Linked DNA regions of Homo sapiens: regions 1 and 2 are each linked to region 3. Evidence: fine-mapped QTL for protein levels in blood plasma. Region 3 holds a variant in brackets. A gene starts in each other region. All regions are shown on their forward strands.

Region 1 (8,182 bases), not on the chromosome of region 3:
ATGCCTAGATATATTGGTGCCCAATAAATACCTGTTGAAAAAAATAAATGAATGAATTGTCAAATATTGGAAAGCTCTAATGAGAGACTAGGCAGATTCTTTATGAACTAGGACATCACAACCAGCTAAGGCTTTCATGATGCAGTAGCAGGGGGCCTCAGGGTGTGTTTGCTGTATAATGCCCTAGTGTCTTGGTAGGGACTGCAAGAACTAGTGGCAAGGAAGACAGAAGAGTGAACTTACCACCAGAAAAGCAAGGGAAGAAGAAATGCTTCCATGTCATCTTTGTCTCATCTCAGTCACATTCCCAATTATATACAGTTTCCACTCTCTCTGTTCATCCTAAGTTGTAGAAAAAAGTTGAGCCTAGAAATGTTCTCAGAAACAATTTTACTGTCATTTGTGTGCCTATTTCTGTAGCACCTCTATCCAATTGTGGTAATAATAAATGTATCTGGGAGTCCCAGATCTTATTACCTCAAGTTCTACATGGAATCATGTGTGTGGACAAATACTATATTCTCATTCCAGAAATTGTCTCTGGGATTTATAGTAAAGGTTTATCCACAGGTCTAAAACAGGATTTTTATGTTAAGAAATAAGTCATACAAGGAAGTACTATATTGAAGATGTAAGATATTGAGGATTCTATTGTATCCTGGGTACCAATAATACGCTATAGTGATATAAAAGTTTCAGTCACCAGTTATAAGTGAGTAACTGGATTAAAACAGATGTGTATAGAAGCATATAATTCAACACACTTAACTACAAGGTCATAAATAAAGAAGAAATTAATGGGAAGTATTTCAGATGTCTTTTGTGCCAAGGACTGTGTCTGACAGAAAAGTGGACAAAAGCTTGCTGGGCCATTTGACCAACATCAAAGTCAATGGACTTCCCTGTACATGACTTTGGAACTGGAAATCGGGCAGGGAGAAGGAGTGGGACTGCTTCCTGGAATTAAATATGGAAAATACACCTCAGTCCTTGTTATTTGATTCACTGTAGAGACAATTTCAGGAGAAGGCAAGTAACACAAATGTAAAGAAGTCTTGTGAGCCATGTGGCTTCTCATGAAAGAAGTATCCCACATTCCTGTGGATCTTGGACTGATTCTAGTCTTACACAGAATGTGAATGACTCCATCACCCACCAATATTCTTCTACCAGTGTAATTAAGAAAGAGGGTGGATAAAAAAAGACAGTACACAGGGAAGATAAAGCAGAAAGAAACAAATTCTGTCAGAAAAAAGTTGTGAAAGCCTACTATGGCCTGGTATTCCTTTGTTGCAATAGTGACATGTCTTCATTAGTGACATTGAAAAGATTTATGAAGGCTGGCTTTCCCCAGCATCTTCAGAAGACTCACAGAATTTCTGGGGGACAAGAATTGTTTATTAAATAAACCAGAAATAGTGCTGGCCAGAAGGCCAATGTGAATGAGAGAAGAGTGAGGATGTAGATACTTATTTACCAAATGTCCAGAGTGTCTACCACATTGTACTTAGGGCTGTCACATACAGATATGTCTATATGCATGGAGCACCCTAGAGTTGTGCAGTGCACATCGTGTACAACTGTATATGACTGTCTGAGCTGTATTAAAAAGCTGGAGAAAATAGAAACAGAAATAAATTCCACATCTAGGCCGTAATCTGATTATATTAATGAACGATGCATAGGTACTGGGTTAAGCTTATTTCTAGAGGAAAACGTGTTCTTCTTAGACTGAGAAACTTAACAGCTAAATAGTATACACAGTGGATTTGAAATCTTAAGTTGAGATTTTCAAACAGATTTGTCTCAGTTCACATGTTCCATGCACTGCTGACTCCAAACAGCTATCCTTGCAAACACAAGTGGTAAGACTAATGAAATTAGGAGGCCTTACACCCAAATGGCATTAAGCACAATCGTCCAGAGCACTAGTAGCTATTTCATGATTGCTACAGGAAAAAAAAAAATCTTCACAGATACCTAGAACTATCGTAGAGGCAATGCTAGTCTAAGCTGGAAAACTGGACAATCTTCAAAGCTAGAAAGTGAAAACTGGGCTGGGGGTGGCTGGAGGACAACCTAGGAGCAAAATTGGCATCACCATCCATTCTGGAAAAGAGGTGGTTAGAAGAGGGGAGGGTGAGGAGAAAGAAATACATATGGACCAAGTACCGAGGAAGACCATGAATTTCTTATAATAAATAAAACATTTTATTTCAAAAAGTAAAAAAAAAAAAACAAAAAATTCAAATACCACCACCCTAAACCATTACCACCATGAATATGTTTTCACACTACATTTTAATTTTAACAAGAAGAACTTTAACATTTAGAAACATTATTTCCTCTTAGATTTTCTTTTCTTAAAAGTTGGGGAAAAAAGAAAACTATAACCAATATTATATATCTCATTATCCCTTACCACTCAGTCATATCTATGCCAAAACTTCTGTTTAGCTATAGGCAATCCTTTCCTTCATATCAGAAATAATTTAATTGAGCGAGGGGTAGGGTGGATATAAGTTCAGTATATGTAGCTTCACTTTTTAAAGGAAATTCTGATATATTCTGAAAAAAAATTGCTAATCGTATTAGTAAGTATATAATGCTGCATCCTCCACGTGTAACAACTTGTTTTCTGTCACATGCAAATTCAGCTGCTTTCCTTCGTTACTCCATTCAACAAATTTATATATTAACAGTACATTCAAAGCATTTAAAACTTCACAGTGCCAGCCGGGCGCGGTGGCTCACGCCTGTAATCCCAGCACTATGGGAGGCCAAGGCGGGCAGATCATCAGGTCAGGAGATCGAGACCATCCTGGCTAACACAGTGAAACCCTGTCTCTACTAAAAATACAAAAAATTAGCCCGGCATGGTGGCACGTGCCTATAATTCCAGCTACTCGAGAGGCTGAGGCAGGGGAATCACTTGAACCCGGGAGGCAGAGGTTGCAGCGAGCTGAGATTGCATCACTACACTCCAGCCTGGGTGACAGAGTGAGACTCCGTCTCAAATAAATAAATAAATAAATAAATAAAACTTCACAGTGCCCAGGACACCTGAGACATTCTTGGTGCTTGTGCTCTTTGAAAGAGCTGAGCAACCTAAAGAATATGACTTATGTCCAACAATTCAGTCTCCTTTATTATACCATCAGATAAAGTGATGTTTTACAAGGAAAATGGAAATATTTTAAAACTCGAGGAGCCCAGCACATCTAAAGGATTTCTGTTTCATGAACTTACGAAAAAGCTGGACAGTCGGAAAAGTCTTACTTGCTTCAAACAAGTCAGACCGTTTTCTCCTGTTACCTATGCTTACAGTCAGATTCCCATTTACCTACAATCTGGCCTTGAGATCCAATATCAAGGCTGGTGGCAGTAAAATGGAGCCAAACACTGTGATTTCTCCCATGTAAATTTGGAATTTGAGAAGTTAGAAAAGTGCTGGCTGCCAGACAAGGTGACTTCCCACTCACCTCCAGCTCAGTGTTCAACATTTTTAAATATCAGCCCCCACCCTCGCCAGGCCACCAACACCAGCCAGGAGCCTTTGAAGACACTTTCCCCCTATGCAATTTGAATGTATAACGTATTTTAAACTACATACCATATGTACTGTATGTACGTCTGTGCGTGATGTATCAAAAGGGTAAAACTTTTTCATCCCTCCACGAACCAATTTTCCCCTGCTGGGGGCGATATCACCCCTGTTGAAAATGCACGTCCTAAACAACAGCTACAAAAACTCAAACTCACATTTAATTGTCTTTTCAAGGCCAGAAGTTCCTAAATCAATAATGATTTAGCACCACTTCAGTCAAAACAATTACATCCGAATCATTTTCAAAATAGAAGCTTAAAATATATATAATCCATGAAATGCATAAAATTGGGCTAAGTATTGTTCCAGCAGTCAGCAACATTCTGGTTAATTTTTTGCATTACTCTCTGTTCGTTAAGCTCTATTTGATGCTTGCTCACAGAACCAAAGATTTGATTAGTGTTGAATTTTACACCTTTCAAGAAGCGAAAAAACCAAACACTCTCTGAGAAAACATTTTTCTGGATGGCAGCAATTGGTAATTTGCAAAAGCAGATAGAAAATGTTCATAGAAAGCACTGCAATTTTCAATTTACCAAACGAATAAACTAACCTCTGCTGCTCACAAAGACCTGAAAATAAATGGCCCACAAAGTTATCAGTCATAAAAACAAATCAATGTTTCATTAAAAAACCACTGTGCCATCTGCATATGCAACCGAGGAGAAACTTCTCCATCCAAAAAGATTCCAGACTGCTCATGTTCTACCATAACTTCAAAAAACAACCAACCCCCACCCCAGCATTTTCAAATACTCATGGCCAGAAGTTTAATAAGACTAAGAAACAGAACAGTCACCAAGAAATGCAGGATATATCCTGTCCAGTCCACTACTAGGATGGTTCTGCATTTTTATATTGTTTCAAAAATAGTGAGGGCAAAGAAAGTCCTCTGTATGAGCCAATAAAAAGAACTTCATCACATTAAAAATTGAGCTCACCTACCTTCACTGGTCCATGTTCATTACTGGAGCCCTGCACCAGCTGGACGTACAACATCATGAAAACATTCACCACTACCCACTCTCTGTACATTTTGAATATTTCAATATCCACTGATTACTAAGCAGTTGACATCAGGCAGCTAGAGAAAATTGTTTCAAAAGGCATTCTCCAGAAGGAAAGTTTGAAACCTCAAAACTTCACACAGAAAACCAAATAATCAGTTCTGATCAAAATCCAATGAAATTATTTCAATTAGGCAAGGTACGCTTTTTTTGCACAATCTTAGGGGTGGGGAGAGAGAGATGAAAAAAATCAAAATGTTCTCCAAAAATAATCAGAAGGTGGACATGTCTTCTACCTGAAATTAGAAAGCACTCTAAATTTACTTCATGTCCAGAAAATTAAAAAAATCTCTCCAATGTATGCCGCAGGTTCTAGTTGCTTTGTAAGGAGGTGGTGTGGCCACCAATGCTTACAGCTACAGAAAGCTGGAACCCAACTCTGGATTGAAACTTTTTTGCACAACCTTCATGGAAGCTTGCAGAAGCATGTGTCTTAAATCTGACACAGATTTTGGCAGAAAATGCAGAGAAGTCTTGGCTGTAATCCTGTTGCGTCCCTACCAATAGCAGGGCAGTTTTAAGAACTGACTCAAATGTTCAGGGCTGCCGTTATTTTAAAGCAGATAACCTGTAACATGAAACCCCAGCACATAGCTTTGACCTTTGTATCTCAGTGGGATTGCTTAAGAAGGGACCTCAGATGCTCATGCATCTGCTGCCAATGACACACAGAAAGCAATCAAATATGATTTTTAAAACCTGCACATGCACAAAAATAATAAAAACATCCATCCATACATGCAAAAAAAGGCAAACATACACAAAACGACTTTTTAAACAGAAGCTTAGTAACTTAGGTATCTCAAATGAAAAACACTGATTTTTAAAGAAACAATGATTAGGTTTATTTGCATGTGCCAGGAAATATCCTACATTTATTGTTACAAAAACCATGTTATCACGTTAGTGTGGAATTCTTTAGAAGCACCGGCTAAATAAGCTTTAGAAATGGAATGCCTTCAATGGCTCAATCTCAGAAATGGCAAAATTCTAGGACACATCAAGACCTGCTCTTCCGCTTTCCACTAGTTCCCAATCTTTGATTTCCAGGTTTTGGCCCTTTCAAACCCATTTTTTGCGTTTCTGAAATCAAGAATAGCTTGAGAAATCTCTTCATTGGTGTTCATCACAAATGGACCTAGGGCAGAAAGAGACATTCAGAAAGTTCTGGGTGGCAATATTTTCCTCTACCACTAGAAATGATATATATTTCTGTAGTTCTTAATTTAAAACAAAATCCAAGCACATCCGAAGAGTAAAAGTTTATTTTCACAGTGTTCAATCCCCAAGGACTGTAAGATGAGTTTCTTGACTAGGATTGTATATGATTATTGATTATAAAGACGAAACTTCAGATAAATGCAATGGCATCTCACCCATTCAGTATAGGTTTCTCACCAGCAATGGTGATCTTTTTTATTAAAAAGAGTCTTAGATTTGGTTCTATTACAACCAATTTTGTAGTTATTTTTATAACATTAGCTGATGTCAAGAATTGAACCCATCTGATACAAAGAACTGACAAATCTTATCATAGCTTTGGTGTCTAAGCAGCATATAAGGCTGTATACTTATTTGAGGATTCTAAGTCATTTTTTGAAAATCAGCAGCACCTATTGACAATAAACAGAAGATTATAAAAATTTCAAGTCGAAGAGCATCATTTTTTAAAAGTTTTCTAGGGGTTGGCAAATGTTTGCTAGGAAGGGCTAGATAGTATGTATTTTAGATTTTGTGGGTCAAACAGTGTCTGTCTCAACTACTCAACTCTTTCATCAAAGTGCAAAAGCAGCCATAGATAATGCAAAAGTGAATAGGTATGGCTGTGTCCCAATAAAACTTCATTTACAAAAACATGCAGTGGGCAGATGTAGCCCATCGACCATAGTTTGCTGACCCTTTTGTCTAATTGCTGGGTCTGAACTCGGATTTTGCTAAAAATGTACAAGAAGTCCTCCCCTAATCTACCAGGAGGCAATGTGTGTTTCTTCCCCTTTCTTCATATATTGTAGGGGCAGAGAGGCACTGGACTGTCTCACCCCCATGATCTGCTAGATGAACAAGGCCAGCTTTTATATGGCATTGACAGTGTCTTTAGAGCAGTTGACAGACTTGTTCACTCAGTGTATGTCCTCATCCAGCCTGCAGAAGTTCCTGACATTCCTTTTATGGAACTGCCTGCTCTAAGGGGCTTTCTCTGGGAGATTCTGATTAATATACAACTGTATTGCTTAGAGAAAATAACATATTCAAACTTCTTAACCATTGTTATCATATCAACATGGATTTGGTGATCACTATAATTTAAATCTTCAGAAGGAAGACACAGGATAATATGTCTTGATGATGCTGAAATCTTTGGAGAGGATGTGGGGAATAGAATACAAGTAGAAAGAAAACACCCAGGCATCTAAATCCATTCATTCAATTACCTATCTATTATGTACTGAATGCCCATTAAATGACAGACATTGTGCTAGAAGCTAGAGACATAAAGATGAAAGACAAATAAATGGCAGACTCCCTCTCCTCAAGGATTCAAATCTATCACACAGATATGAAAAGAAATCATTACAAAACTGTTTGAAATATGGAAGGATAAAAGTGTAAAAACTATAAAATCAACACAGAAAGGGGGAGGAGGAGAAATCCAGGAAAGGATTCACAGAGGGAGTGATGTTTGAGCAGTCACACACGGAGGAAAGGCATGTTCAGGCTTAGTATGCTGGAGGAATACTGGAGGGGATAGGGGTACAGTGGTGGAAGGAGGGATCAAAGGCGGAAAAAATGGCGATCTGAAATATAGGAAGAAACCAGACCCTTCTGGGCTTTGGATGCAATCTACAGGAAGAAGTTTGGACCTACTTTTGCAGGTGATTATGAATCACTGTAAGGTTAAGTAGGGAGTAATATAATATGATTTATAATTTTTAAAGAAGACTTTGGCATCAAGGTAGAAGAGCAGGTGTCTAATTTGGGAGGCTGAGTCAATGGTGGAATTGTTAAGGGTATTTGAGATACAGGACGTGGGAGGCTTTGGATGGAGCAAGGTGTTCAGTTCTGGATATTTTTTGTTTTGTTTTTCTTTTCTTTTCTTTTTTTTTTTTTTTTTTTTTTTTTTTTTTTTTGAGACCGAGTCTTGCTCTGTCGCCCAGGCTGGAGTGCAGTGGTGAGTGGTGCGATCTTGGCTCACTGCAACCTCCGCCTCCCGGGTTCAAGTAATTCTCACACCTCAGCCTCCCCAGTAGCTGGGATTACAGGCACGTGCCACCATGCCCGGCTAAATTTTTGTATTTTTAGTAGAGATTGGGTTTCACCATGTTGGCCAGGCTGGTCTCAAACTCCTGACCTCAAGTGATCTGCCAGCCTCGACCTCCCAAAGTGCTGGGATTACAGGCATGAGCCACCGCGCCCGGCCCAGTTCTGAGTATTTTAACATAGAAGTACTAGAGACAATAAAGTGGTTTCCCAAGCAGAGGTTTTTGGTACATTGTTGAAACTATGGATC
Region 2 (8,167 bases), not on the chromosome of region 3:
GCAAGGTATTGGGACCACCAAGCCTCTAACAATTCCATTTTCTAGTTGATGAATTCAACAAATAAAAGGCAAAGAATATACAGCTGTTTTCTGATTCTCAATGAGAGAGGTGGCAGGGAGGCTTCTACAACACCACCAGCCCCAGAATCTATATTCTTGTCAATTCCTCTCCCTTCCTCATGGCTCTGCCTGCAGGTCCACAGAGAGCTTCCAACCACTGTCCAGGGAGGCCGGTCAACCTTCCCTCCATGACCAGAACTGCAGAGCAGCTTGGGCCTCCCTGTTAAATTCTGCTTGTGAGTGGAGGACTTGAAGAAGTGGGGTAAGGTGGAGTAGGGTCAGGCATAGTTAGGTTTCCTGATGCTGTGGCCAAAAGTCTCAGAGAATCGCAGGTATCTTATGAAGGAGAAAGAAAATAACACATGTAGAACAAAACAAGATGGCATAATACCTGCCTCAAAGCTTGCAGTGGCAGCTTTGGCATTAGATTCTGCCCAGCTCAGTCCCCAGAATATGGATTCCCCTCCATGGAAGCATCTCATTGCTAAAAACCCTTACAAGATGTGTGAGAAACTTCTTCCCCCTTAAATGGCTGACTGAACAAATTTAACGGAGGCTGTTATCCACTGAGTTTAGTATCAAAGCTCTGAGATCCAGTTCTCTTTGAGTTTTTGCTTTCATCTGGAATCTTGCGCCCCTGCCCTCTTTGCTGCCGTCACTGCACAATGTCAAACAGCTGGAGTCTGGGCAGCACCAGAATCCAACTGTCTCAGCCTAACAAGTGAAGGGATGGGGGAAGAACAGATGGCGGGAGATGAGGAAGGTGGGGGTGTCATGGAGGACGAAAGGGGGCTGTGCTTGCTTTAGAGAATCTGATATCTTGGAAAAGTGGTCTCACGTGGAATTCAGTGTCAATAGATTCTATTTGTCTAGGGCTTTGCAAAATCAAGCACACAGAAGTGGCCTTGGACTATTCTATTTTTCATTTCTCTAACCCAGCTTCACCTCTCACTCAAACTTTTACTAATTTTCCCTCCATTTATTGAGTGCCTACCAAGGGTTTATATATACATATATACACATATATATATGTGTATGTGTATATATATGTGTATACATATATATGTGTATATATAGAGAGAGAAATAGTACATATATATTATTTCCAATATTCACAGAAACTAGGGTTTAGGGATGTAATTAATTTGTCTAAGCTCATGCAGCTTATTTAAGACTGGATTCAAACCCAGGTTTGTCTTGATGCCACAATATTCTTTTTTTAAAAATCTCATCCTCGGCCAAGCACAATGGCTCACGCCTGTAGTCCTAGCACTTTCGGAGGACGAGGCAGGTGGACCAGTTGAGCCCAGGAGTTCGAGACCAGCCAGGCCAACTTGGAGAAACACTGTCTCTACTAAAAATACAAAAAATTAGCCGGCCTGGTAGCAGGCACCTGTAGTCCCAGCTACTCCAGAGGCTGAGGCAGGAGAATGGCGTGAACCGGGAGGCGGAGCTTGCAGTGAGCCGAGATCACACAACTGCACTCCAGCCTGGGTGACAGAGCAAGACACTGTCAAAAAAAAAAAAAAAATCAACTGGGCATGGTGGTGTGCGCCTGTAATCCCAGCTACTCAGGTGGCTGAGGCAGAGGTTGCAGTGAGCCAAGATCACACCACTGCACTCCAGCCTGGAAGACAGAGTGAGACCCTGTCTCTAAATAAATAAATAAAATATCATTCTCCCCCTGGGGTACACTTGTCCATAGGGAGCCTTGTGGGGATCTGGTGATTAATTCCTAAAAGTCAACGGAACATATAGCCAGTAGGAATGCCTGAGTTGACAGCCTGGGGCTAGAGAAGTCAGTCCCAGCCAGTTCAACTTGTATAAGGAATAGATGGCATCATACCAGGCTCACCTGTAGTTCTGCCTGAACCATGCAATTTAGGGTTTAATTATACGCTGTCTTGCATTGTTTCTACTAATTGTTGCATAGGTCAATCTTATACTTTCATTCATCATTCTTCCTTCAGTCAACAAATATTTTAGAGCAACTGGGCATATTTCTTCTCCAGCAGCCCTTGCAATACCCAGCATAGAACGGTAAGCCAACTCAGATAACTAGTTAATGGTCCAGTCAAGAGCAAATGAGGGCTAATTTTCCTAATTATAAATTAATGGATTATGTTATGCATCTTGAAATTGTACTGAGATATTGCCTTAATAAATAGACACTTTATACACTCAACAGCTTGAATTTTAAAGCAGAAAGTTGGGTTCATGAATATCTCATTTCCAGTATCATTTATCAAGATAAAATGTCTTTATCCAAATATAAGCTTTTGAGAATAGTTATGTGTACAAAAGCCAATTTACTAATATTGTTAAAACTGTGAATTTTGGTATCTCGTTTATTTGTTTTTTTTTTGTTTTTGAGATGGAGTCTCGCTCTATTGCCCAGGCTGGAGTGCAGTGGCACGATCTCAACCCACTGCAACCTCCCGCCTCCCGGGTTCAAGCGACTCTTCTGCCTCAGCCTCCTGAGTAGCAGGGATTATAGGCATGCGCCACCACGCCTGGCTAATTTTTGCATTTTTAGTAGAGATGGGGTTTCACCATGTTGGTCAGGCTGGTCTCAAAACTCCTGACCTCGTGATCCGCCCCCCTCAGCCTCCCAAAGTGCTGGGGTTACAGGCGTGAGTCACCGCACCTGGCCGGTATGTCATTTTTAATCTTAACCCATACATCAGAACTCCATTCTCTTCCTGTATATAATATCCTTAGACTCTTACATTAGTTACAATTAGTAAGTTACCTTAGTTCTTGGAATGCACTTGAATGTCTCTTTCGAAAAAAGAAAAACACTCCTTGGAAAGCCCATAAAATACTTCTTAATGGCTAGACAAAATTTGGGCATTTTCTAAACAGTTTTTTTTTACTGCAAGAAGTAGCCTGCAATTCATGAAATAGTTGTGAAGTAGTGTGTTTCACTGGAAAAATCTTGGGTTTGGAATTCTTACCACCATTTAGTTGTTGGGGATCTCAGGCATGTTATTTAATTTTCCTTATCTATAAAATGGAGATAATTGCACCTATATAGCACAAGGTCATTATGGGGATTCAAGATGGAAGGTACACACAGAATCCAGGAGAGAAACTGGGAGAGGAAGGTGCTCAATAAACATTAGCTTATTTCTCAGAGGCTTGTTGAAAAGGTTAAATAAAATCATAAATATGATGCAGTTCATAGGGTAAGCAATTAGTGCCCAGCTCTTCCCATTGGAGTGTTGTTTCCACTAAAGTGAATATTTGGCAGTTGTTTTCTTTATTGTTCAGTGTAATCATTCAGACTAGATAATTCAATCAAGTCTTCACTTGGGACCTTGTGTTTGATGATCTCATTGTTGTTTTTAATTAAAATAATCTGAGAGATGGAAATGTACATTGGAACCACTGGAGGACAATTTTGTAATACCAACTAAAAGCATTTAAAATGTTATATCCTATCCATTGATCCCAAACTCCTACTTACATGAATTTACCCTTAGGAAATAATCAGAACAAAAAGATTTATAGCTAGATGTTTAGTCAACTGCAATACAGGATGATAATAAAAATGGAAACGATCTAAATATGTAACAATAGAAGAATGGTTGAATAAATAACAATCTCTCTCTTTGATGGGATAGTACACAGCAGTTAAGTCAAATTTTGAAGATTACATATGGGGAAAATAATCATTAAAATGTTAAATTTAAAAGCATGATAACCTGTATGTACAATGAACCCAAATTTGTAAAATATGAAAGTACCAGATAAATCAATGAAGAAGCTGGCTCCTGCCTGAATTACCAGATGCATTAAAAATTGTATAAAATATTGAATAAACTCACCCCAATTATGTTTCCCTTTAAATGTCTTTCAATTCTGATTCAATTAGAATCATATACTCAGTGTCGATAACGTGTTTATTTGTATTGATGAGAAACAAAAACAAGAAAGAAAAATGACTAGAAAAAACACTCCACTATGTTAATAACAATGTTATCCCTGGGTAGTAACTTTAAGTTGATTTTCTTCTTTTATGTGTTTTTCTACATTTTCTAAATTTTTGTCAGTGCACATATTTTATAATCAGGAAAGCAGATTTATATTAAAACAGAGGAAAACATCATCAAGTCCTTCTTTCTTGTCTACATCTTAATAATTTTCTCAGCATAATCCTCTCCAGATATCTTTCACAGTCAAAGAGATCCCTGTTTATATGATACAGGTAGAGTATCTACAGCACACTGAGAGGAAACCACGTCTTTTCATGTCATTCACTGAATTCCTTCCAGTTTATTCTGCACAGCCTAGCAACATAGTGACTTATATAGACCTACAATCCCTACTCACCTCCCCACTCCTTCCCCCGACCAAGCATTTAAATTAATGTGATGATCACTTCCATACCAAATGCTTCCTTCTTGGTGGAGGCCCATAACATTTCCAAGAAAGCAAGGTGCTAGAGGTAAATCACCATCAACAGAACGGACAGTAGCAAAAAGCACCTTACAAGATCCAGACTCCACCTAACTGTTTTGAAATGGCTAGAGATGCTGGAATGGGTTGGGGTGGGTTAAGATAGAGAAACTAATTGAAAGGGGAGGAGGGAATTAGGCAAGAAATACCCTCCAGGCAAAATGGAGTGGGGAGAAAATTCAGATACGTTGTTCTTACAGGACTAGTAGTAATAAACACAATCACATTAATACAAAGAGCAATAAAAACAATAAACATATCTGAGGTACCAACAGTGTGCTTGATGCCGCCAGCAGAATTAAGTCCTCTTTATTAAGCTGTGATCTGCATTCTGCCTAAACTATAAGAAAGGTGAGCAGCAGGCCGGGAGCAGTGGCTCATGCCTGTAACCCCAGCACTTTGGGAGGCTGAGGCGGGCTGATCACCTGAGGTCAGGAGTTCGAGACCAGCCTGTCCAACATGGTGAAACCCCGTCTCTACTTAAAAAAAAAAAATTAGCCTGGCGTGGTGGCAGGCACCTGTAATCCCAGCTACACGGGAGGCTGAGGCAGGGAGAATCGCTTGAATCGGGGAGGTGGAGGTTGCAGTGAGCTGAGATCATGCCACCGCACTCCAGCCTGGGTGAGAGAGCCAGACTCCATCTTAAAAAAAAAAGGAAAGAAAGAAAGGTGAGCAGCCTGCATGCATGAAGGAACAAGGCAGTGTGTCATTCTCCTGACTAAATGGTGCTGGTAGGGACTGTTACATTCTTTGTGTTCTGTTGTGTTCTGATGCTTAACTCAGAGCCTAGGGCTGTGTGGACCCAAAGACCAGAGTAAGAGAATGGAGAGTCCTAGGAGAAAGATGACAGAAGGGGTAGAAGATATCTTTGAGATGTCAAGCAACGAATAGTATATACAGGAATATAAAAGAATGAATCTGAGACCTTCATGCATCACGTTCTCATTGAGCGGTACTTGGAATCATCTTTGAAAAACAGAAGGCTGGATACGCTGCTTGGGTCCCTGGGGAGAAGGAGTGTTATCACTGCAGAGGAAGCTGGTTGACCCATTCCCTTGGGGGAATTAAAAGTTCTGTACCCAGGGTGGACCCCAGGCCTTGTAGTCCAGAATTGTGCCTTGGAAGGAGGACAAAAGAAAGTGGAAGCTAATATAGTCAATGACTGGAAAGAAAAATAGGTCTTTGAGAATGTTGGGGGAGATTGTTAGAGATTAAAAGGGAAGGAAAATTAGGATGATTAAGTAGGAAAAGGAAATGTAGGTGGATAATGCACAGAGAGAGTTCAGAGTCCTTTTCACCTTCTTGCTGAAAATGCATCATCCTCCAGATCCATTTTGCCAGAGGAACATGCCTAAGAATCCAGGCACAGAGCTGAAAGTACTCGATAAATCAAAAAGGAAATTGGCTTCTGCCTGAATGACTAAATACCGGAGAAAAAATAGTGCAAAATATGGAATAAAATACATTTATGTTTCCTTTGTAAAGGTCTTTTGGTTCAGATTCAATTAGAGTCCTATACTCAGTGTAAAGTATGTATGTTTACTGACAAGAAACAAGTTAATAAAAAACAAAACAGGGCCGGGTGAGGTGGCTCACGCCTGTAATTTTAGCACTTTGGGAGGCCAAGGTGGGCAGATCACTTGAGGCTAGGTGTTCAAGACCAGCCTGGACAACATGGTGAAACTCCGTCTCTACTAAAAATACAAAAATTAGCCGCGCATGGTGGCAGGTGCTTGTAATCCCAGCTGCTTGGGAGGCTGACACTGGAGAATCTCTCGAATTCAGGAGGCAGACTTTGCAGTGAGCCGAGATTGCACCACTACACTCTAGCCTGGGCGACAGAGTGAGACTCTGTCAAAAAACAAACAAACAAACAAACACACACACACACACACACACACACACACACACACACACACACACACACAAAACCCCCAGAGGCCCAGAAAAGTTAAGTGACTTTCCAAAGTCACAGTGGCTTCCTGACTCCCAGTGCAGCTGTCCAGCCACACAGGGAAGGCAGCACCCCCATTCACCCTACTACTAGCCTGGCTGTCTTATTTCCAGGACAGCTTCCTCACCAGCTTGGCACAAACTCCCAGTTCACTTTAAACAAATGGCTTAGCCCTGCTGGGACTTGGTTTTCTCAGCTGCAATGAAGATACGGAATGGATGACCGCTCACAACCTGTGCTTCATTCCTAAAAAATAAGAAGGGAATCCAATTTGCCACCAACTCAACATTTGCCTTCTCACTGCCCTGGAAAGGTAGTTTTTAAAACGTGGCCCCTGACCTGCAGCATCAGCATCACCTGGGAACCTATTTGAAATGCAAATTCCCAGGTCCACCTACTGAATCAGAAACTCTGGAGGTGGGGCCCAGCAAAGGGATTTAGCAAGCCTTCCAGGGAGTCCTGCTGCAGATCAAGTTTGAGAACCACAGCTCTGAAAGTTTTCTGACCAACACACACGCGCGCGTGCGCGTACACATACACACGCATAGGTAACTAACTTTTCCGTGGCCACTAGCACCCCCAACCCATGCCCCCAACCCCAGCCCCAGCTCTCCCTCCCCATTCCTCCCTGGCTCCATCCTGGGATGATGAATGGAGGTCAGGGCGCTGTCAATGGACGACGCGGCAAACCCTCCCCAACCGACCGAGGGGGTCGGGGGAGGCTGCGTTAAGGCTTCCCTGAGATTGGTTTCCTTATCATTTTCTCCACCGCCGCTGTCCCATTTTCTGATGAGTTTGCTTTTAATGATTTATCCAACAGTTTGTCTTGCAGAAGAAGAAGACCATTGAGAGGTGGGTGTCAGGAAAGTCTTGGAAGAGACTAGGCGAAAGGAGGGAAGGATTGTACATGGAAGAGCAAGGGTGCGAGGTGAAGCTAAAGAGAAAGTGAAGGCTTCAGGGGAGCCCCCTGGGTTCGGGGAAAAGGGAGAAGATGGTGCTTTTGGTATGGGAAAGCAAAAGAAGTTGGAGGAGAGCGCGGGTCTGAGGCACAGCAAAAAGTGGGTGTTAACGGGAAAACTGCCCTAGAGTTTGGGGGACTTTTTCCAGCTTCCTTTCCAAGACTTTTTCTTTGCTCCATTTTGCTCCTCCCCCTCCTCCCAGCCTCCTCCACTCCCTCCTCCTCCTCCTCCTCGCACGGTAATGGGAGGCTCCTAGGCAGGAGAAGCAAAAGAAGGAATTGTTTGCGAGTTCAGTCATCCAAAAAGCTTCTTCCATATGGAGGGACCGGGTGCGCTGGGCGCGGCGTCCCCTGCGTTGTCCTCCTGCTGCCGCCCCCGCGGCCGCCGCTTTCTGCCGCGGGGACCCTGAGCCCCGGCCCGCCGGTGTCAGCCGCCGCGCGCGCGCACAGACACACACACAGAGACACACAAACACACACAGAAAAGACACACACGCGCACACACGGCGCGCACACCCTCACGCCCGCCACAGCCACAACACGCCCGCACGCGCCCTCCCTCTCCGGCCCGCAACTTCTCGGTCCTCGGCTCCTTTGTTGCTCCAGCCGCGGCCGCTCGCCCGTGTTGTGTGTCCCCGGTGTCACCGAGCGTGTTGTGTGTCCGTGCGGCGCGGCGCTGTGTGGCTCCCTCGCGCCCACCACGCTGGCCCCCGGGCCCCGGCTCGCCCTTCCCA
Region 3 (8,182 bases):
GTGGCCGGGCGCGGTGGCTCACGCCTGTAATCCCAGCACTTTGGGAGGCCGAGGCGGGCGGATCATGAGGTCAGAAGATGGAGACCATCCTGGCTAACACGGTGAAACCCCGTCTCTACTAAAAACACAAAAAATTAGCCGGGCGTGGTGGCAGGTGCCTGTAGTTCCAGCTACTCAGGAGGCTGAGGCAGGAGAATTGCTTGAACCTGGGAGGTGGAGGTTGCAGTGAGCCAAGATCATGCCACTGCACTCCAGCCTGGGTGACAGAGCGAGACTCCGTCTCAAAACAGAAAACCATAACATATTTTTAGTTTTTTCATGATTAGACTGTGGCTTTCACAGACAACTTTTTGATATCCCCCCCATGTTTGATTTACCTTTCATTTTTCTCATGGACGAAGAATAACTGCCTCTTGATTGCGCTTCTCTGTCTTGCAATCTGTGCTGTTTATTTATCTGTGGACATAGCTTCTAACTTGTCACTCCATACTCCCATTTGTAACTGCCAGGGCTGGAAGCCTATGAACTATATTCCCAGCTTCTCCTGATGCAAGTTTCCGGCCAATGAGAGGCACTGGAGGCTGGAAGGCTGGATCATGGGAGAAAGCATGTCCCCTTCTCCAGCTCCGGGAGCAGCTGGCAGCTGAGAGTGACTGCAATCTGCAGATTGGTGGTGGGTGTCACAATAGTGGCGGAGCTGTTGATGTTTAGGCTCCGTAGCAGCGGCCAGAGGGTAACTCCTGGTTTCTGGATGAGGGGCAATCGTGCTCATGAGCTCTCGTAGCTTCACTTTCCATTTCATTCTCCAGTTCTATAGGGGGTCAGTGACCTCCTGTAGCTGCTGCTCTCTGAGTGCTATGGAATGAATGTTTGCGTCCTTCCAGATTTTTATGTCAAAGCCCTGCCCCCCAATGCAACTGTATTTGGAGACAAGGCCCTTAAAGGTAATTAAAGTTAAATGAGGCTGGATGTGGTGGCTCATGCCTGTAATCCTAGCACTTTATGAGGCCGAGGCAGAAGGATCACCTGAGGTCAGGGGTCTGAGACCAGCCTGGCCAACATGGCGAAACCCCGTTTCTACTAAAAATACTAAAATTAGCCAGTCATGCTGGCACATGCTTGTAATCCCAGCTACTCGGGAGGCTAAGGCAGGAGAATCGCTTGAATCCAGGAGGCCGAGGTTGCAGTGAGCCAAGATCACGCCACTGCACTGCAGCCTGGGTGACAGAGTGAGACTCCGTCTCAAAAAAAAAAAAAAAAAAAAAAATTAAATGAGGTTTAAGGATGGGGCCCAGTCTGGTAGTTTGTTCAATTTCTTTTCAAAAGAGCATTGTTTTTGTTTTTGTTTTTGTTTTTTGGCATGAGGTTGTAATCGCTGTGTGCCTGGGGTCGGGAGGCTGACTGACAAGGCAGCTTCCTCCACAGACTTCCAGCAACAGTCCTGCCCTGGCTGCGCTCCTCTCCCCCAGGCCTCCAGGCCACCAGCTTGCAGCCTGTGCTCCTCTGGGGAGGGATCCCCCGCTCCCCCACTCCCAGCCTCGCCCTGACAGTGATCCGAGTTGCGGATTTTGGCTTTCTCCTCCATCCTCACCCGTCCAATTGCCCTCCAGCTCACAGAATCATTTTCTCAAAATTTTCAACTGCTAATGACCCTGTCACCAGGCCACCTGGCAGGGAAGCCCACTTGTCCCCTACCAATAGGCCCATGGTGTCTTGGAGGCTTTCCTGGTCTCCTGGGACAAGACAGCTGCCCGGCTTGTAGCCAGGACTGTGCCTGTAGCCCACCTGCTGTAAGGTCACGCCTGCAGGCCCTGAGTTTTACCGGCAAGATCTAAGTCAGTTCTCTACCAACACCCTAAGGCAGGTACTACTACTTTCTCCGTTTAGAACTGGGGAGAGTGAGATGCAGAGAGCCCCTCCCCCGACCCTAGGCAGAGCCCGAGACTCGCCGCAGGCTCATGCACTGTGCCACCTGCCCTCCTGAGGCCACGCTCTTCTCACGGGAGGTGGCCCTGTGGCCTCACCTGGGCCGGATGGGAATTGCAAACTTGAAACCACTACGTCTTTTTCCCTGTTTTTATTTTAAAAAGGATATTAAACGAACATATCTTTTAAAAATTAAAGTGAATTGAAGTTCATTTTCATTTTATCCTGAGAGGTTCACAGTAGCTCTTGAAATAAATGAAAGTGACTTTAAACGGGCTTTGTTTTGAGGTGATCTCAGCAGCTCTGAGGATACGCACAGCAGTCTTGGAGTCTCACAAAACTCGGCTGGAAATCTCTGGCCCCAGAGGGAGGAAGATGCTTCTCTATTTCTACCTGAGGCCTTCCTTAGGCTCCTGGTCAGGAAGGGAGAAGAGACCCCGGGCAAGGGGTGAGAAGTGGGGGTGGGGGAGTCTTGCCCCTTCCTCTGGACGACAGAGCCCATTACTAGAGGGAATTTCAATGGTGTTTCCAACCCCAGGTCTCACCCAGGAAGGAGGAATCTAAACAAACTCAGCTGCCAGTGGCTCCCCCATAGCGACAGTTTGAGGCCGGATTCACTGAAGTTTTCACAGATGAGTCTAGGTAAAGTTGTGGGGGTTTTTGCTGTTGTTTTGTTTTGTTTTGTTTCTTTGAGACAGGGTCTCAGTCTGTCGCCCAGGCTGGAGTGCAGTTGAGTGATCTTGGCTCACTGCAGACTCCAACTCCTGGATTCAAGTGATTCTCCTGCCTCAGCCACCCAAGGTGTGAGCCACCATGCCCAGCTAATTTTTGTATTTTTAGTAGAGACAGGGTTTTGCCATGTTGCCCAGGCTGGCCTTGAACTCCTGAGCACAAGCGATCCGCCCACCTCAGCCTCACAAAGTGCTGGGATTACAGGCATGAGCCACCGTGCCCAGCCAAAGTTGTGGTTTTAAGCAGGATGTTCCAAAGTCCAGTGGTTATGACCAAACGCCACACAGAGACAGAAGCCTCCCGCACAGCCCCAACTCCCAGCAGCCATGGTGTTCCAGGTCCTCCAAAGTCAGCTTCTCCTCCAGGAGGCCACTGAGCTCCCCAGCTGCGGGGCTGAGGCCACACAGCCCTGTGCGGTTCATCTGCCATCCGGGCCCTTCTTCCTCTTCTGAGCTTCACAGTTAGCCCAGGGAAGAAAACAGGCGTGTCTTCCACAAACCCTGAAGGGAATGGGAAGTGCCAACAGTGAGAAGGACTTAGATGTAAAGGATTTACACACGGTCACGGCATTTCCACAACCCTCTGGGCACCTGAGTACACGTGTGCAGACACACCCCCAGATGGGGGCGAGGGGTGGGGTGCCCCAGCTATTCACACCTAACCATGAGCGTGTGAGGCAGCAACACTTAAAGGCCACTTGCTTTCCGCAGCATCTCGATGGAGCAGGAGCCTGCCTGGGGCATCTCCAGGCAGCTTGGCTGAGCACCCAGGACTGAGTGCAACCCTCAGCGTTTACATTTTTTAGTACTATTCACTAAGAGAGAGAGAGACAGAGAGACAGTGATAGAGACAGGGAAGGACAGAGACAAAGAGAGCAATGGGTGAAGAAAGAGCAAGCAAGCAGGGATGTCGGACATTTCACACAACGCAGTCACCAGGGAGGCAAGAACACTTACAGAACAGTTTGAGCCAAAGAGTCACTCAGGGACAGGAACAGCAATTTCTTAAATATTTAAAGCAGACACCCTGTGAGCGGCTGTGGAGGCGGCTCTTTGTTAATATTTAACACGAGCTGGGCAGTTGCCGGGAAAACA[G/A]CTGTTTACAGGAGAGATTAACCAATATTCATCATTGCTCAAAGCTGTGGGGAGGCTTCAGGGGACAGGCAGCTGCCGGTATTTCTAGAATACAGCAGCTCAAGGCCACAGGGCTGGGGAGGCTCACGGTGTCCCCAGGGTGCATGAAAACTGTAAACAGGCAGTTCGGGGTCACCTACCCTGCTCCAGAATCACGGTTTGCAGGAAACCCAGCCCTGCAGCTGGGCCTGGGTGGTGGCTGCTGGCCGGCCAGCCAGCACCTCGCTGGACAGCTGCGTCCCACAGTCCCAGGCTGGGCTGTCCTTCAGGCCCATCCACAGTCCCAGGCAGACTCCTCGTGCACTCCCTGCATGAAGTCGGGGGCAGGTGCTCGAAAGTAGAGGGGTTCCCACTGATGGAAAGTGTCACCAGCCTGCCTGCGAATCCCCCAGCTCACACTTGGGCTTGCAGGGACACCAGCCAGGCCGTCTTGCAGAGAAGACAAGCTGCCTATTTTCAGGGGCTATGAGTCTTGTTCATGACAGTTTTCTCCTCTATGTGCCAAACATTCAAGAGCCTGGCCATTTTCACACAGCCCCATAGCCTGGGTGAATCAGGCCTCACTCCCCTGTACTTCCTTCCAAACATTCTATCACTCCCAACACCCTCCACCCAGGCCTCATGGAACTACACACAGATCACGCTTGGGCCCAACTGGATGCGGAATCCCAGCTCAGGACCAAGGAATGCTGCTGCTGTCTCCACAATGCCCTAGACCTGCAACCCTGGGCGCTTCCTGGCATACCACTGCCCACTCTGCCCACACCACAGCTGACTGACTCCTAATGGCTCTTCAAACAGTTGTTTGCACACCTGACCATTTATTATAAAGGAAGAAGCGCCGAACAGCACGTGCTGCTCTGAGGAATCTGTACAAGAATTGGGGCTCTGCGTATTAATCTTTGCTAAAATGAATTTAGTTTGGGTATTTAGGTTTCACAGCATAAATATATTTTTCTCTACTCTGAGACCAATTGGCACAGGCTGTCTAAGGCATTAGAAGAACAGTCCTTAATCTTTCTGTGTTCACAGCATAGTTCTGAATACCAGAAATCTAGAGGAATGCTTGAAGAGGTTTTTAAAAAATTAAACAACATTAAAGGAGTCAGCAATGATTTCCATCTCAGCAAAACAGGGGCCCTCAGGGTCCAGAAACATCCATGGCCATTGAGCAGTCACTTGGTCATTCTTGTGGATGCTTTTTTTGAGATGGAGTCTTGCTCTGCCACCCAGGCTGGAGTGCAGTGGCGTGATCTCGGCTCACTGCAACCCCTGCCTCCCAGGTTCAAGTGAGTCTCCCGCTTCAGCCTCCCAAGTAGCTGGGATTACAGGCATTAGCCACCACGCCTGGTTAATTTTTGTATGTTTAGTGGAGATGGGGTTTCACTATGTTGGCGAGGCTGGTCACGAACTCCTGACCTCAAGTGATCCACCCGCCTCGGCCTCCCGAAGTGCTGGGATTACGGGCGTGAGCCACCACGCCTGGCCTTCTGGATGCTTTTTATTTTGTGGTTATGCAGCATCAGGACAGCCTTTTAACATTTGAGAAGTGAACCGTCTTAGTGGGAGGCAAAACCCTGCTTCCCTCTACAGAAGCCTAAAAGGCCAAGAACGTGCACTCCCTGACACCGGTGGGGGGTAGCAGGGCTGTGCAGCCACATGCCCAGGAGGCACGGAGACTTCAGGGTCCGTCCCCCCATTCCCAGGTGGCAGAGCAGTGCCCCAGTGTCCTGGGTGCGAAGAGCAGTGGCTAGTGCATGCTCAGCACCAGCAGTGTCCTAGCCACATGTCTTGGGGCTATAGCTGTGGCCACTTGGCACCTCCAGGTTCCTGACCCTTCCCCACAGTGACTCAGCAGGGAGTTGTCTGTGAGCCACTTGATACCCTTTTACAATATTCCCTTTCTGATGATTAACCAGAAGTGCTTTGCAGGCGGGAAGCCTGGTGCGCACAGTCAGGGTCTGCCCTGTGCTGCTGCTTGAGGACTGTCTCCTGCCCTGACGGTGCTCTTCAAAGCTGCCGCGGGCCTGCTTGATGTAATGCTCACTTCTGACCTCTTTGCCCATGCAAGGCACACCCTGCCCTGCCGTCCCTCCCACCCCCTTCCTCCTTGGCATTCTGATGGACTCAGTGGTCCCCAAAATTGCACACATCAATTAAACCAGCAGCACACTCATGGAGGGCGGGTGGCGCCCTGGGTGCTGCTGTGTGCCAGCTGTCAATCACCGTGGGCTGGAATGTGGATTACAAGCCTGGAAGGGGTATCGCGCACTCAGGGTTTAGCCACAGTATACAAACGGCTTTTCCACCTTTCCTGTCCTGAAGGCCACAGCAGGGCCTGCTCTGCTCCCTGCGGCAGTGGTCCTCATGCTTGGCCAGGTGACTAGGCATACTCGCAGTTACTGCAGGGCCACTGTGTCCCCGGCTGAGCCTCGTGCCACAGAGAATTGGTCAGAGAAGAAGGCGGCTTAGAGAGGGTCCGGTTGGCCTGCAAGCCTGAGCCCCTGCCCAGGTGGAGATTAAATCCTTGTTACCTGATGGTATTGACGCTTAAAATTAAAACTGAGTTCAGTTACTGAAAATAGAGAAAGGGCCACTTCTATGCTCCTGAGATCGGAAGTGAGGTTTATCCCCCCGGGGATCTGAAGGATCATCCACTGGGCTTCCCTAAAGCGGCATTGTGTCATTTCTCCCGGCTAGGAGAGGTCTCCCCATTCTCAATTCCCGTCACTTATTCTCACTCAACAGAACCTCTCAGAGCACCTACCGTGTGCATGAGCCCAGTGTCGATGGGCCACGGGCCAGCCAGCCTGGGACGCGTGTCCAGGGCAGCTGGGATTTGGACTCTACTCCACGAGGCCACACAGGGGAAGGGGAAGCCCAGACGGCTGTCAGGGCATTCTTGGGAGCCGGGGGTTTGGAAGGGCTGTTGGGCGTGCTGGGGCACCGGCTAGGCTGTGGGGTGGTGACTCTCCTGCAGCCTTGGGGGGCTACCCTGAGATCATCTGTCACCCCACTGCTTGCTGCTCACTCCTGATCCCGCATTCTGGCTGTGGGCAGAGAGCACTGCCTGCCACATGCTGCGACCCGTGGCCCCTTCGCCAGTTTAATTTTCTTTTGTGCCCGTTCCCCCCTCAGCGTTCTAGTATTTTAATGTGTGTCCTTTTATTTGCTTGTGTCCCAGTATAAGACACACTATTCTATTTTGGTTTCTAAAATTATTTCTTTACTAGATTGAACCTTTTTAATTTTATTTTTATTGTGGTAAAATATATGTAACATAAAATTTACCATTTTAAATATTTTCATATGTACAGTTCAGTGGCATTAAGTATATTCACACTGTTGTACAACCGTCACTGCTATCCACCTTCAGAGCTTTTTCATCTTCTCAGTCTGAAACTTTGTTGCCATTAAACACTAACTCCTCATCCCACCTCTGCTCAACCCCTGAAAGCCATCTTCCTTCCTTTCTTTTTCTTTCCTTCTTTCTTTCTCTTTCTCTTTCTTTCTTTCTTTTTCTTTCGCCCTCCCTCCCTTCCTCCCTTCCTTCCTTCCTTCCTTCCCTTCCCTTCCCTTCCCTTCCCTTCCTTCCTTCCTTTCTCTTTCTTTCTTTCCTTTTTTTTGAGACGGAGTTTCGCTCTTGTTGCCCAGGCTGGAGTGCAATGGTGCGGTCTCAGCTCACTGCAACCTCCACCTCCTAGCTTCAAGCAATTCTCCTGCCTCAGCCTCCCAAGTAGCTGGGATTACAGGCACCCACCCCCAGGCCCAGCTAATTTTTGTATTCTTTTTAGTAGAGACGGGGTTTCACCATGTTGGTCAGGCTGGTCTCGAACTCCTGACCTCAGGTGATCCCCCGGCCTTGGCCTCCCGAAGTGCTGGGATTACAGGGGTGAGCCACCGTGCCCGGCCCCCACCATTCTACTTTCTGTCCCAATAATTTTGACAACTCCAGGCACCTCACATACGTGGAATCACAGAGTATTTGTCCTTTTGTGCCTGGCTTATTTCACTCAGCATAAGGTCCTCAAGGTCTGTCCCTGTTGTAGCACCTGTCAGAATCTCCTTCCTTTTCGAGGCTGAGTCATCTTCCCTTGCCTGCGTAGACCACGTTTTGCTTATCCACTTATTCCTTGTCACTCAGTACTGTTTGGTACTCTTGACCTACATAAGGACTATTTCACTCTTGGCCTCGATGGGTTTCTATGTTCACTCAGCACCAGAACCTCATAGTAGTTTCCTGCCTCTGTGCACATCTGGGCCGTTGCTTCTAATGGGGACCTGGCGTCCCGGGGGTCCTCTGCACCTGACTTCCCCTCTTACCCGTGACACAGGCCCCCAGCCTGGGACGCTCCTGCCGCAAGCCTCAGTGTGCAGGTCTCGTTTATCAT

Alleles and levels. Alleles are on the strand shown, and positions count from the first base shown. The strength of an association depends on the size of the effect and on how common the allele is.
In carriers of allele A in region 3, the plasma level of the protein whose gene starts at base 5,109 in region 1 tends to be lower than with G alone (weak association).
For the plasma level of the protein whose gene starts at base 7,727 in region 2, allele G in region 3 goes with a higher level than allele A (weak association).

Evidence for each region. A credible set is the group of variants that fine-mapping cannot tell apart. PIP is the posterior inclusion probability: the model's chance that the variant is causal. Protein levels are from antibody-based Olink assays in UK Biobank. Linkage for the fine-mapping came from a reference panel and not from the study's own genotypes, which makes the PIPs less certain.
Region 1: it holds the start of VEGFD, and the variant in region 3 is the best candidate, but not a certain one, in a credible set for the plasma level of the VEGFD protein (UK Biobank, PIP 0.66).
Region 2: BOC starts here. The variant in region 3 is the best candidate, but not a certain one, in a credible set for the plasma level of the BOC protein (UK Biobank, PIP 0.61).

Annotation. Positions count from the first base shown.
Region 1 is chrX:15,379,305-15,387,486 of GRCh38, forward strand. It overlaps VEGFD (vascular endothelial growth factor D), which reads right to left and starts at 5,109. Exons shown (of 7, transcript NM_004469.5): 1 at 4,553-5,109. The coding sequence starts at 4,642. It overlaps PIR (pirin), which reads right to left. Exons shown (of 10, transcript NM_001018109.3): 10 at 5,495-5,812. The coding sequence ends at 5,700. The region is part of intron 9 of PIR-FIGF (PIR-FIGF readthrough); the gene reads right to left.
Region 2 is chr3:113,203,831-113,211,997 of GRCh38, forward strand. BOC (BOC cell adhesion associated, oncogene regulated) reads left to right here and starts at 7,727. Exons shown (of 20, transcript NM_001378074.1): 1 at 7,727-8,167. LOC124909486 reads right to left here. Exons shown (of 2, transcript XM_047449436.1): 2 at 3,567-8,167. The coding sequence ends at 7,725. RefSeq lists an enhancer at 8,088-8,167.
Region 3 is chr15:101,524,703-101,532,884 of GRCh38, forward strand. It overlaps LOC124903567 (a long non-coding RNA gene), which reads right to left and starts at 3,672. Exons shown (of 2, transcript XR_007064784.1): 1 at 3,615-3,672; 2 at 2,063-3,158. RefSeq lists an enhancer at 5,617-6,275. The variant G/A (reference allele first, on the strand shown) is at 3,753.